2 linked regions of the Homo sapiens genome follow. The protein of the gene in region 1 purifies or fractionates together with the protein of each later gene. This does not show direct contact. Each region holds a gene or a part of one and is shown on either strand. Other genes may lie near its edges.

Region 1 (7,057 bases):
GGGCGTTTTAAGAACGAAAGGTAAAATCCAAGACAGCTGGATAATGGCTGAAAGATCAAAGCATAAAATGGAAAGAAAAAAAACAGAGAGAGTAATGCACCAAAGAAGAAGAAGGACAGGAATTATAATTCAGTTAATAAAGTGGTGGCTAAAACATAATGGCAACCAAAGGAGCAAGCTGGAGACTGGATGGTCCCCTGGAAAGTCAGCAAATCACTGAGGCCCATGTGGATATATAGCAAGTGATCCAGGCCTTCAAAGAGCCCCTTCTTCCTTCCTGGCCAAGGGTTGAGGCCAGGCGGGGTGGAGCTAGAATGGAAGCCAGGGAGGGACTAAAGGGAGAACAGGCCTCAGCCAGCTAAGCAGAGGTGAGGGAGCAGAGAGGAAGCTAAAACTCCATTCACCTGCAGAGAAAACTGCTACTCTTATTTAAACTTTGTGCCTTAAAAATCTATATAAATAAAATAATATAATAACCCTTATCATATAAAATAAAATACTTATATATAATGTGTACTATAAAATAGTATCTGCATAATTCAAAATTTTGAAGCATATATGTGTACGTATTAAAATCTCATAAATGTACAACACAAAGAGTGAACCGTAACGTAAATTGTGAAGGCCAGGTGTGGTGGCTCATGCCTATAATCCTAGCACTTCAGGAGGCTGAGGCTGAGGATTGCTTGAGGCCAGGATTTCAAGACCAGCCTGGACAACACAGTGAGATCCCACCTTTACAAAAAAAAAAAAAGCCAGGCATAGTGCTGTGTGCCTTTAGTCCCAGCTACTTGGGAGGCTGAGGCAGGAGGATCACTTGAGCCCAGGAGTTTGAGGTTAGAGTGAGCTACCATCATGCCACTGCACTCCAGCCTGCCCAGGAGTTTGAGGTTAGAGTGAGCTACCATCATGCCACTGCACTCCAGCCTGGGCAATGGAGCAAGACCCTGTCTCTAAAACAATAATAATAATAATAATAATAATAATAGTAATATGTCAGTATTGGCTCATCAATTGTAACAAACATACCAAACTAATGCAAGATGCTAATAACAGGTGAAACTGTAGGCCTGGGACGGGAAGGGGAGTATATGGGAACTCCTTGTACTTTCTGCTTATTTTTCTGTAGGCATAGATCTACTCTAAAAATAACATCTACTAATTTTAAAAAAAAAGAAAGAGCAAGAGAGAGGATGCTTGACATCAGGTCACATGATAGTGGACCTGGCAGTGCGTAGCAACGTAGTGCCTTAACTGCCTAGGAGGTGAGGGAGACACTCTAGCCTTCAGTTAAGAACCTGGCTCCAACTACCTGGGCCCAAATCCTGATCCTGCACACACCCTTGACTAATTATGTAACCAGTTACCCACCCCTCTGTGCCTCAGCTCCCTCACTGGTAAACAAGAGTGTGGTAACAGTCTCTAACTCATCAGCCTGCTGTAAGAATTAAATGAGATAATGCACGTAGGCAACTTAGCACAGTCCCTAGAACACTGTAAGTGCCAAATAAATTTTGGCTGTTGTTAATATTAAGGAGGAAAGGCCCCAGAAAGAACCATGGGTCCTTGGAGGTGACTGAGCCAGTGGCAATAAGGGAGGGCTACCGGCCCAGCTCTCACGGCCCACACAGACCTGTTGGCACAACTCTTTGCCAAGGCAGGGGGTGCCTTTGTGGAGAGCACCTGCCTTCTCCTTACCTTCTCCAAGCCTGTGGACTCATCCTCCACATCCTTGGGTAGTAGGATGAACATGCTGAGATGCTTATTTTGAAAAGGAAGCTCTATGATCTTACAATTGATACTGTCAATGTTTCCCATACAGAACGTGGCCTCCATGTTCATCATCTGCACTGGTTTGGTGTCTGTCTGTAAAAGGGAAAATTTGGACTGCTTACTTTTCAATTTACACATGCATAAATATATATATATATATATATACACACACGCGCGCACACACACACACATATATACCCACATGTATATATACAGACACACATACATATATACCTACACCTATATATATACAGATACACATACATATATACATACACCTATATATACACATATACATATATATGCATACATACATATACATACATATACATATACACACACCTATATATACACACTTATATATACATACTATATATATATACCCCATACATATATACACACATGCACATATATACACATATATAGGCAAACACATAAATATATATGTACATATATATATATACACAAATTTGCTCTTGACACAGTGTCAGATTATTATGGCTTATAATTCATCATCCACTCAGATCCAAACTGTATTGCACTGAAACCAGAGACTGTCCTGTGAAGAGTTTGTGTTCCTTTGAAAAGTTATTCATATACTTTATAATCTACATGTTACACATTACATGAAGTATATATAATACTGTATTTGCATAGATCAAACCTTAAAAATAAGACTGTATGGCTGTAAATATAGGCAACGTTTGTTATTCTTTACAGATGCCTATGAGATCTTTAAACTATTCCTGGTGGAGCTGACTTGAAAGTAAATTCTACTGCAAACCCACATAACCATTTATACGGCTTTTCCTAATAAAATGCCTAATTTCAAAAACTGGCTGGGCACGGTGCCTCATGCCTGTAATCCTGCACCTTGGGAGACCACTTGAGGTCAGGAGTTCAAGACCAGCCTGGCCAACATGGTGAAACCTTGTCTCTACTAAAAAATACAAAAGTCAGCCAGGCATGGTGGCACACGCCTGTAATCTCAGCTTCTTGGGAAACTGAGGGAGGAGAATTGCTTGAGCCTGGGAGCCAGAAGTTGGTGTGAGCCAAGATCATACCACTGCACTCACTCCAGCCTGGGCAACAGAGCGAGACTCCATCTCAAAACAAAACAGAACAATAACAACAACAAACTTAGCACATAGCAGAACAAAACAATATTTGTTGTGACCTCTCTGTTTGTCTTTGGTTTGAATTGCCCACTCCCCACTGTACTGCCACCTACTCAGATCTGAGCTAATTAACAAAGTCTAAATTGAAGATAAGAACCTTGGTTTTTAGTCCCAAATGTGACATAAACAGATTCTGTGGCCTTGAGCAAATCACTCAATCTCTCCAGGCCTCAGTATTCTTGTCAGTAGAATGAAGAAATTGTAAATTCAGAATAATGGTTACCACTGGGGAGGAAGAAAGAGGAACAGGACAGTGGAGTGAGCAGTGAAGGGATACATACAAAGCAATGCAACTGTTGTTATATTTTTTCTTTAAAATATCTGAAATAATTAAGGCAAAATATTAAGTTCAAAAAGATGATTGATCGGTATATGGGTGTTCGTTTTATTATTCTCTATCATTTTCTGAATGCTTGGAGTATTGCATAATTTTTAAAAAGGAAAATGTTCTTTAAAATTATCTCTAAGTCTTTTTAAAATTATCTCTAAGTCCCTTTGAGCTCCACTGTATGCTTGGCTCTTTTTTTTTTTTTTTCAGAAACGTTGTGTTCAATGGTAAAGCTTAGCACAGCCCAGCACCAAGAATGGTGTGCAGCCGCAGCAGCAGGGACAGGCAGGTGACCCCCACAGAGCTTCACATGGCGAAGAGGATAAGGAAGGCGACCATCAAACAGAAGAGCCCCATGGCCTCAGACAGGGCAAAGCCCAGAATCGCATAGGAGAAGAGCTGCTGCTTGAGAGATGGGTTCCTGGAATAACCAATGATCAAGCTGCCAAACGCTATTCCAATGCTAGCCCCTGAACCAACCACACCAACTGTGTCTGCCTCAGCACCAATAAACTTGGCTGCGGTGTCAATGTCCCAGGAGACAACCTGGTCTAGAACTCCTGTCTGGCCACACCTAAAGTGGGGAGCTGCTGTAGGAAGGCTGTTTAGATGAATGCTCTGGGCTATTCAAGAAGGAGGCAGACACAGGCCGGATTAGACCCCTAGTACAACAGCGGATCAGAGCTGGAGAAATAAGTAATGCCCCGGTGGGCTGCATTTTCTCAGTCTCCCAACTTTAGCCCTTGGTCTCTCCCTGCTCTTCTTAAAGGGAGCCCATGGAAGGGTCTGATCGTTCAGGTCTTTTATGTCCAAGCACTGCCCAGGCCTTTTCTTCTCTTTGCTCCTATTAACACCTGGCCTCCTGTCTCTGCTCCAGAGATGACTGATTTCCTGAAGGAAAATTAATTCACGCTAAGTTGTAAAAGACTGACAGTAATGTTGTATAACCTATTGACATATACCTCCCATGGGATATTTGCCTGTTAACTAAATCTCTTTGGGGAGAAATTTCAAACTTCATATCAAGCCTGCAAGGATAATACTCCAGTAAACTTGCATCTGGTATCTTCAAATACTAAGCTGAACCTTCCCCAATACCTCTCTCCAGCAGAGCTAAACGTTATTTATTTTACTTTTGTATATACCTCTATTTTAACACTTGCCACAGTGTTAGAAATATTATCTAGTGATTGTCTTTCCACTTCCCACCCCAACTAGAATACAGTCAAGGCAGAAACTAAGTCTCATTTTCTACCCCAGCTTGTAGTTTCTCACTGAATATTTGGCTGATAAATAATGGAAGACTTCAACTCTATGTGTAACCAAAAACAGAATTATAGGAAAACATACTACTTTGGAGGTTAACAGATAATTCTTCCCTTTATTTCTCCTAAAGAGGATATTGTCTTAAAATATATTCCTCCTAAAGAAATTTGTCTAAAAATCTCCAACAGGTTAGACTGCTCATAGTTTCTGAATGTGCACATAGTTGTGGCCTCCAAAAACTGTCATCAATTTCACTTATCGGCACTGACTACAGGTACTTTATTTTCTGAAACACATGTTGAGACGACATATCTTCTGAAAAGAGGACCAAATAAAGACTATCTACCCCAGAAAATATAATACAACATATATACTAATATAGATATATATGGATAGATATCTTTATCAGAATAAGTACTATACTAAACTTTTAATGATATAACTTCACCAATTTAGTCTAACCCTTACCGGAGACACCACGGGGCATAAGAAAAGGTTTAGTAATGTCACTCAAAAAGTTCTAGGGTGGACAAAGCAATTCAAAGAAAACAAAGGAGAAGTAATAGCATCTGCATTCAAAAGAAGGGTGTAGCCTCATGCAGCTGTGAATAGCATTTTATTGCTTTATCAAGTGAAACACTGAGAGATCAATGACATTTCAAACTTTTATTAATTCTGTTCATAAAGGCTGAGTTTCCAGGATCTTATATAACCCAGCTTTATGATTTAATAGCAAGAATAAAGGAATAGCACACATTCTTCCTCCCTTCTCAAAAAACACACGTTAATACTTTCTTAATGAAAAAAGTACGACCCTTAGTGTGGTTGACACAAAAGTCCACATTCTACTCATTGACTATTGCAACATTTTCATGGTGTTCCTTCCAGGCTGGCTCTGGGGTCTTGAAGAGAGGCACCATTGGCAACCTGTTTCAGATTTCACTTAAACAGAGTTAGGAACCCTTTGCCAGCCCTTGCTATGGAGGAGAGCCAATCACTAATCAAAGGAGCCAGAAGGGTCACTCTATGACAGCAAAGGCTGTGTGGATGCCGTCAGGGCCAGTGGGGCCAACACCCCTCCCTAACTCACAGTAGAGGCTGGGTAAAGTCACGTTCCACTTCCACTCCAGATAAAAGACAATACTGAGAAGGTCAAAAAGCCATGCTTAAAACTCAAGGACCTGTGTGTGCAAAACACAAGAGTGTGAAGAGCATAAGCTATGTCTCTAGAATCTCAGACAGACCTCTTGTGTGCAGGGTCAATCCTGTCTCTGCAGTCAGCTTTGAGAAGACCACTGCAGTTGGGAAGCTAAACTCAGGAAGTTAGGAGGACCTCCTACCCATCCCTCAGCTCCCATGGATATTTTGAGTTGGTAAGGAGCAGTAACAGTCATCATTGTCTTCTCCCAGTGAAAATGCCCAATGGGTCTTGCATAGGAAACCATGGTAGTCCCAAAGGCCAGTCAGGTTTTGTCTGCTATTGATTGTTTAAGCAAACTGACCCTTAGGGACTGATCATTCATTCAGCAAATTTGCTGAGCACCTACTGATGTGTTAGGGACTTGGCCAGAAATTGTAGACACTGAGGTGAATAAGGCATTGTCCCTACCTTAAAAATCCCATGCGCTAGTAGGGGATCTATGTAAGTAAACAGATTTCACTGTGGAAAAGCAAATTCTGGCAGTGGACAGGGGAGAGTATGAATAAAAATTCCATGGGAACAAAGAAAGAAAGAGTAATGGAAGCCATCCGGCTAACCCAGGCATAGATTGTATCTTGCAGGGCTTTTCCTCATGGATGCTAGCATTAAGAAGGTGCTACTATATTTGGCAAAAACAAGATATTGATGCTAAGTACTCTAACTACTGGGAGAAGCATGAAAACTAGAACTGACGCGTAGGAGCTACAGGTAACTAAGCTACCTTCAAGTATTGTACTAACTGAAGTGCTGCTTCCAGTCTAACACAAGTCAGATCCCACCCACGGAGACCACATCACATCATCATATAGATGTCTGGGTTTTCCAATAAAATGGGTCAAATTTCCAGTCTCAGTTCCTTGATCTCATTTACAAAAGAGGTACTTTACCCATTTCTTTTTTTTTTTTTTTTTTTTTTTTGAGATGGAGTCTCACTTTGTCACCCAGGCTGGAGTGCAGTGGCACAATCTCAGCTCACTGCAACCTCTGCCTCCTGGGTTCAAGCCATTCTCCTGTCTCAGCCTCCTGAGCAGCTGGGATTACAGGCACATGCCACCATGCCCAGCTAATTTTTGTATTTTTAGTAGAGATGGGGTTTTACTATGTTGGTCAGGCTGGTCTCAAACTCCTGACCTCGTGATCTGCCTGCCTCGACTTCCCAAGGTGCTGGGATTACAGGCATGAGCCACTGTGCCCACCCTCTATTAATTATTTAACATATTTACTTCAACAGTATCAATGAGACTGGCCTGCAAAACAGGCCCTTAATTCTTCCCATAATGACTTCCAGTGATGTCAATGAGTAAGCCATAC
Region 2 (7,235 bases), on another chromosome or scaffold:
GAGAGCTTTTCTTTTTTAAAGTGTTGCCCATATGTCACTCAGAACAGGAGGAGTAGGATGTGCTTGAATTTGAGTGCAAAGATTTAAGACAACATTGGGAGAGATGGAGCAGGAGTAATTGGGAAAGTGCATGAAATTACTTCAAAACAGCAACTTCAGAATGCTGGGTGCTTAAATATCATTCAAGCACCAAAGGGAAAAAATTCAAAGGACAGAGCCCTCTGCATCTTTATAATGGCAAGTAGAAATATATTCACAGGAATTTTGATCAAAAGAGCCAAACTTATCCTAGAGTAAAAATACATCTTGGTTACAACACCTACCTAAATGTTTTATTAGGGTTCTATCACCCTTTTAAATTAATCTTGTACCTTTATTAAACATTTTCTACATTTTAACATTAATAGTGCAGTTTTTCAAAGGCGCCCTACACATTTATTGGATTATTCTGTGCTGGATGCTAGATAAAGTTAAAAAAAAAAAAAAAAAGACGTACACTAATTTAAAACAAAGAAAACTTGCTTCAGCAAAACACTACAATAGCAATAGACTTTGCACCTAGCACAATTCCTTGTAAATAGGGGGCACGTGATCTCTGCTGAATAAATGAGTCCATTTCTCCTTACTCCGAAAAATAACCCTGGCAAGCATGTAAAATATCCTACCAGTCTGAAAAATATTCTCCAGTCCTATTCAGCTACCAATCCATTCTCAGAACCCATCAAGAGCAATTTTCATGAAAGCCTCACTCACACGCACAAAGAGGCAGCATTTAATTCCCATTAGGCTCACTGCCTGATCTACGGAGATATAAGCATTTGCACATTTGCATAAATTCAGGAGACATCCTTCATTTGATATAAGGTAAATCTTAAAGCTTCGCTTCATTTCCAAATAAGTTTTATTTTTCAAATCAAAAATATTTTTAAAGTTTTATTTTTCAAATCATAATCCTAATCATAGTACATTATATCTTATTAGGGATGCTTTTAAGAAAAAAAAATATAGCTGTCAAAATTAAAATCTTGTTTTTTCATTTCTAGACATCTGGGACATTTCACTTATATATTTATTATTATTTCACATTAGTTCTCAAAGTTAAAAAAAAAAGCTGGCCTATTTCCTTTAAGAAATTTAATTTTAGGGTCTGTCAACATTTTGAATGCATTACTGTTATTTTTAAAATACACACTTGCATACTGGAATAAAACTTAGCATAAGCTTTCCATATAACCATTTCCTGGGCACTTACTAACTTACTATATGCCAGGCTCTATGCTTAACACATTACTCCATTATCTCATTTGTTTAACAAATATCCTCTCATAATTTTTGCAGCACTGAACATAACAAGAAGACATTGCACTATAAAACTGGTATTTGTACTGGATACCAGAACTAAATTGACAGTAACGCCTAACACAAGTTTATTGTTATTAAATTCAAGTTGTGTTACTGTATTAACACAGAATCTGATCAGCAATGTTGAGATGTAGAGAATACCATCTGTGGTAGCATCAACAGAGAAAGCTATTATTAAGTGACTACTTAAGTTACATTCCCTTCTATAGGTAACAGATGAACATAATCTTATCTACCCAGAAATTTAATTCCAATCACTACATGCCATTTTGAAGAACATAAACGTAACCTACATAAAATGACTATATAAAGAACCCTTGCTTCCTTCTGAAAATGCTTCAAAATTCTAGATTAAATTCTCCCCCAAAGTATCATGCTCAGCATGTCATAAAGAAAGGTGCCTTTATTGTCAACTCTTGAAAATAAATGCTGCCCTACTTTTTTTTACTCTTGAATTTCAGTCTCAACAGATGGGCAATTCCAGTTTAAAAAAAAAGAAGAAGAAAAGAAAAACACACACACAATAATTAATGAAGTTCTTCAACAGTTCCCTAAAACCAACATCCTCCCAATAGCAAATTGTATTTCCAAGTTGTTCCAAGAAAGGGACACAGGAAAGGGAAGGGAAGAGTCTATACAAAGGAAAACAAAAATGAGTGACTTGAAAGAAAGGACATCAGAAAAATGGGTGGCCTCAACAGGAACCTATAGTGTCTGACTCTGCTGCTGTCTGTCGAATTTAATTCTACCACCTAAGAGTTTTGAGACGAGAACCACAATACTATTTCGGTGGTAGGAAAAACTATGCGTTGCCCCTGAATGGAGCTGCAACAGTAAAGGATGCCACCCTGCCAGGTAAGGACAGAATGAGGAGGAACTGTCAAACGGTTATGAAAGTCCCTTGCAAAACACACAAGCGGCTCTAACTGCCTTGCACCAGACAGACCCTCAAGTACAGGATCACGGGGCCTCCCCGCGATGTGACAGGGAAATAACGGGCGGCCTCGCGGTCCCCAGGCCTGGCTGCTATCCTCAGGGGTCGGCCTCCCCTCTCAGGTCTCAAGTCAAAGGTCACATCCTCTGAGATGCCCTCCCGGATCACCTAACCTAAAGAGCCTCGCCCCCATTCCTCTAGCCCGCAACTGCCTGTCCCGTTTCTAAGAAAGCATTTCCGTATCCGCAAAACATCGCAGCTGCGTGTGTTGTTTCCCTTCTACAGAGTGAGCTCTGCGGGGCAGGGGCCTCGCCTGCGCTGTTCACCCGGAGCCCCGCCTGACAGAACCGGCTTCCCGGTGAGGCCCGAGGCGGCGTTTGCGAGCTCGGCCGCGACACCACGCGCGTCCAGAACGTGGAGCTCAGATGGGGGCCGGCCTGGCCAGTCCAGGCATCCCCGGGGGCGCCTGCGGGGCCTGAACGAGACAAGGAAGGAGCGGACGCCCGCGCAGGCGGAAGCCACGCGGCGGAGCGCGGTCCCGCGGGGCGACCGAGGCTGACGGCGACTCCCGCACCCCGGTGGACCCACAGGCCGCCCGGAAGGCCCAGTGCCGGCCCCAGCCCCGGCCGCCCGCCTCCGCGCCCCCGGCTCGGCGCGCGAGTCCTCGAGCCGTGTCGCCTGCGGCCTCCCTACCCTAAGCCGCAGACCCGTCGCGTTCTGCCCAGTACGAACTTCCCGCCGCTTTCGCCGACTCGTAACTCGGCAGCGGCGCCGGCCCCTTCGCACCCTGCAGTATGGAGCCTTCCCATTGGCTCGGAGGCGACGAGGAGGGGCGGGACGAGTGGTAACGCGAGGCGCGGGGCGGAGGCTACGCTAGCCCCGCGCCTCCCCGGGAATGCCGGGAGCTGTGGTCCAGCGCTCCCAAGGCATCCTGGGAGTTGGAGTCTCTTAGCGGCAAAGGGAGATCCCCGTCCTTCTGCTCCCTGGTCTTCTAGGAAATGTGGTTTACAGCCTTGTTCGTAGTAGCTTGATTTATTAAGTGTATTGGCAGAGAGTTGGGTGTAAAATAAGTTTCCTGTTTCTGTTAGGATTAAATGAAATAATCTATAGGCAGTACTTTAAACTTAGTTGGTGCTCAATAAATAGCAGATAGTGTTAGTATTATTCTGCCCACTCATTGATATGTGTCTAAATCCTACCTGTTTTTCGAAGCCTATTTCAAAGCATATCTCAATGTCTACCTAATCATCTATAGTGTTTCATCTGTAATCAACGTATGCCACAGTTTGCATTGTGTTTATTATTTATTTTTATTTATTTATTTTTTTGAGACGGAGTCTCACTCTGTCGCCCAGGCTGGAGTACAGTGGCACAGTCTCGGCTCACTGCAAGCTCCGTCTCCCGGGTTCACGCCATTCTCCTGCCTCAGCCTCCCGAGTAGCTGGGACTACAGGCGCTCGCCATCACGCCCAGCTAATTTTTTTCTGTTTTTAGTAGAGACGGGGTTTCACCGTGTTAGCCAGGATGGTCTCGATCTCCTGACCTTGTGATCCGCCCGCCTTGGCCTCGCCAAGTGCTGGGATTACAGGCGTGAGCCACCGCGCCCGGCCGCATTGTGTTTATTATAATCAGCTAAGTCTCCATCACCCATGAGGCTGAGAGCTTATTGGGCACTGGGTCATTGTTCTAGGTCAAAATCACTGAAGTCACAGGCAGAGGGAGATTAACAATGAAGCCAATGAAGCGTAAGCTTCAGGACCTCACTTGCGCAGGTCCCTCAATGAGTTTACATAGCTTTGGGGGTTTATTTGTCGATTTTACTTTTCTTTTTCTTTTTTTTAAAGATATAGTCTCACTTTGTCACCCAGGCTGCAATGCATTGGCGCGATCTCGGTTCACTGCAGCCACGACCTCCTGGGCTCAAGCAATCCTCCCACCTCAACCCTCCGAGTAGCTGGGATTACACGCACAGGCCACCACTTCTGGCTAATTTTTGTATTTTTTGTAGAGACAGGGTTTGACCATGTTGCCCAGGCTGGTCTTGAACTCCTGAGCTCAAACAATCCACCCCGCCTCAGCCTCCCAAAGTGCTAGAATTACAGGCATGAGCCACCACACCCAGCTGATTTTTCTTAAAGTAGATCCCCCAAAATTATGTGAGCTTCAGTCCCTACAAAACCTGGAATCACTCTGTCCATTAGACAGGGCAATATTGTGCCTGATGTCTTACATTTTCCCCTCCAGATACCCTCATCTGCTCCAAATACTTCTCCTGCCTGCCCTCTGCCCCAGGAGGCTGACCTCTACAAATTACTTCGCGCTCCCTGTGCCCCCTGGCTTTGGGGCGTGCCCAGTGGAGAACCCCACAGAAGATTGGAGGAAAAAGAAAGGTTGGTTAGAGTAGGTTAAGCCCCTGGATCCTGACTGGCAAGGTCACCTCCAGTTGGCAGGTCCCTCAGCTGAAGGTCACTGCTCCCTGGCCCTCCCTCCAGTTTGCGGTAGTAGCCCTTCCCTTTGTGCCTCAGGTCTGGAAGTGATGACATCACGGCTGCTGCTGACCCACAAGTTACTGCATCCTCCCTCGTGGTTCCTACCCCCAACACCGTTGTAAATAGTCTCATTGCAAATAACCTTCCTCAAATTACCCTATTTGGAATTATGTCATCTGCTTCCTGTTGAGACCCTAACAGAGCATGGGCAAGGTGAGCACTCGATAAAATCTGTCAGCAAAAAAGTCTCAAGATTCACACATCTCATGGGTGTGGAATCCCCCAGCAAGACTCTGTGGCCAGAATCCACTGAGAGAAAGACACACACACCCACACCCACACCCACACAAATACACACATATGTTAAGAAAACTTGGAACAGGACTTATCTGTCATAGTGTGACCATGTTCCCCTAACCTCACAATAGACACGTGAAGAAACATCCCTGTTTCCACACTGGGTTGACAATTGACTGACTTTAAAGCACAATTAAATCAGCAACAGTGTAAGGTAAGAATGGAATGTATTTATTCTGGAGCTCTTGGCCCTGGCACCCTTGATCTGATGGCTCACTGTTAAACACTCCTTACGTGCAGCCCTGTTCCAAGGCAGTTGCCGGCACCTACAACATCATCCACACATGCTGAGATGTCTTCCCAGTGCAGAGCATGGCAGGTCACCAGTCCAAGCTGCTGTCACAGAGACAACATGTCTGAAATGCTATAGATGGGGATACAACTCTCAAAGCTAGCAGACCCTTGGCACGTTTTTATGAGTTGATAGCTTGGTGTCAAGATCAGGGTCATACATAAGATTGACCAGCGAGGACTTGCTGTTGGTGGGCTTTAGAAATTAAGAATTGATGGCTCACGCCTGTAATCCCAGCACTTTGGGAGGCCGAGGCTGGCGGATCACGAGGTTAGGAGTTTGAGACCAGCTTGGCCAACATGGTGAAACCCTGTCTCTACTAAAGATACAAAAAATTAGCTGGGTGTGGTGGCAGGCACCTGTAATCCCAGCTACTCAGGAGGCTGAGGTGGGAGAGTCGCTCGAACCCGGCAGGCGGAGGTTGCAGTGAGCCGAGATCGCGCCACTGCACTCCAGCCTGGCGACAGAGTGAGACTCCGTCTCAAACAAAAAAAAAAAAAGAAGAAGAAGAAGAAGAAGAAGAAGAAATTAAGAATTGTACTAGGCAGGAAAGGTTCATAAAAGTAATCCTGCCATATATTCAAAATATCTATACGGTCCAAACAAATGTTTACAGAGCACTTACTGTGAGCCAGGGATTGAGCCAAATTCCAGGGACCCTGGTTTAATGCTTAAGGAGGCCCTACTATTTGTCAGGCACTGTGATTTTTCACACATATTGTTTCCCCAATTCTTAGAGGGGAAAAAAATCTCAAAGAATTTGGACAATGATTCTTGGTCCCCTGAATCTACTTCCAAATGTTCTTTTTACTGCCCCTTTATGCCCAGCCTCAATACATGAGGACTGTCCTTACAAAGAAATAATTTTAGCACAGTGGTGGAGACTTGTACAGAATGCTATCATAGCCTAGTACTGAGATTCCTGGTTAAGGGGTCATCATAGATGAAGCAGGGTGACCTAGTGAATAAAAATCTTCTAGCTTCCCAGTAAAGGCAAACCAACTAAAAATTTATACATGGGATCTGTATTGATTTGCTGCATAGTGAGACCCCAGAGTTCCTTTTTTTTTTTCATCTCTGGGAGCCCTAACACAAAGGTATAGAAAAATAAAAATAATCCAGGCACTTTGGGAAAGTGTGAGGAGGTTGGTGTTGGCTCCACCGTGGCAGAAACCCAATCTATAAACTTCAAACAAACGCCATAGTCATTAGGAAGCAACATCGTCCTGGCGGGCTGCCCAGGAGGCACTGATTCAACCCGTGAGTCAGTTTATGCATCCTTGTCCTTGTTGTTTTCATCTGTAGAATGGGAGCAATCATTCTGGGCCAACCGGCTCTCTGCCACCCCAGGCTGATGGGAGGCAGATGAGGTAATGTTTGAGAAGGGCTTTGATCTATCCAGAACAAAGTCACTAGGGTGTCCTTACTCAGTGTAAGTGGCCTAAGAAAAGCCCAAGACAATATTACTTCCTGGGAGAAAGGAAAGGAGAGAGGAGTGAGGGGCAGAATGTGATCAGGGTCTTCTGAGTACCCTGACCCTGGTTTGTACTCCCCCACCTGCTCTTGATGCTTTATCTCATCCCAAGTGCCCAGAACCCTTATTTCCCTTTTAGCAAGGACTTTTGAGGATCTACCATGTGTCAGGCAGAGTGTCTGATATGGATTGGCTGCATCCCCACCCAAATCTCATCTTGAATTATAGTTCCCATAATCCCCACGTGTTATGGGTAGGAGTGAGTTCTCCTGAGATCTGATGGTTTTATAAGGGGCTTTCCCCCACCTCACTCATACTTCTCCTTGA

Evidence for each region. Proteins that work in one complex are often made in the same cells at the same time.
Region 2: the proteins of SERPINB5 (region 1) and VRK1 purify together in Homo sapiens (affinity purification with mass spectrometry; 3 studies listed by BioGRID and IntAct, with this or other methods). This does not show direct contact.

Annotation. Positions count from the first base shown.
Region 1 is NC_000018.10:63,493,929-63,500,985, reverse strand, and holds part of SERPINB5 (serpin B5), read right to left. Parts: intron 4,045-7,057; exon of another isoform or gene 3,483-4,044; intron 1,867-3,482; coding exon 1,699-1,866; intron 1-1,698. UniProt on the Homo sapiens protein: Tumor suppressor. It blocks the growth, invasion, and metastatic properties of mammary tumors.
Region 2 is NC_000014.9:96,793,202-96,800,436, reverse strand, and holds the start of VRK1 (serine/threonine-protein kinase VRK1), read right to left. Parts: upstream 3,056-7,235; 5' UTR 2,990-3,055; intron 1-2,989. UniProt on the Homo sapiens protein: Serine/threonine kinase involved in the regulation of key cellular processes including the cell cycle, nuclear condensation, transcription regulation, and DNA damage response.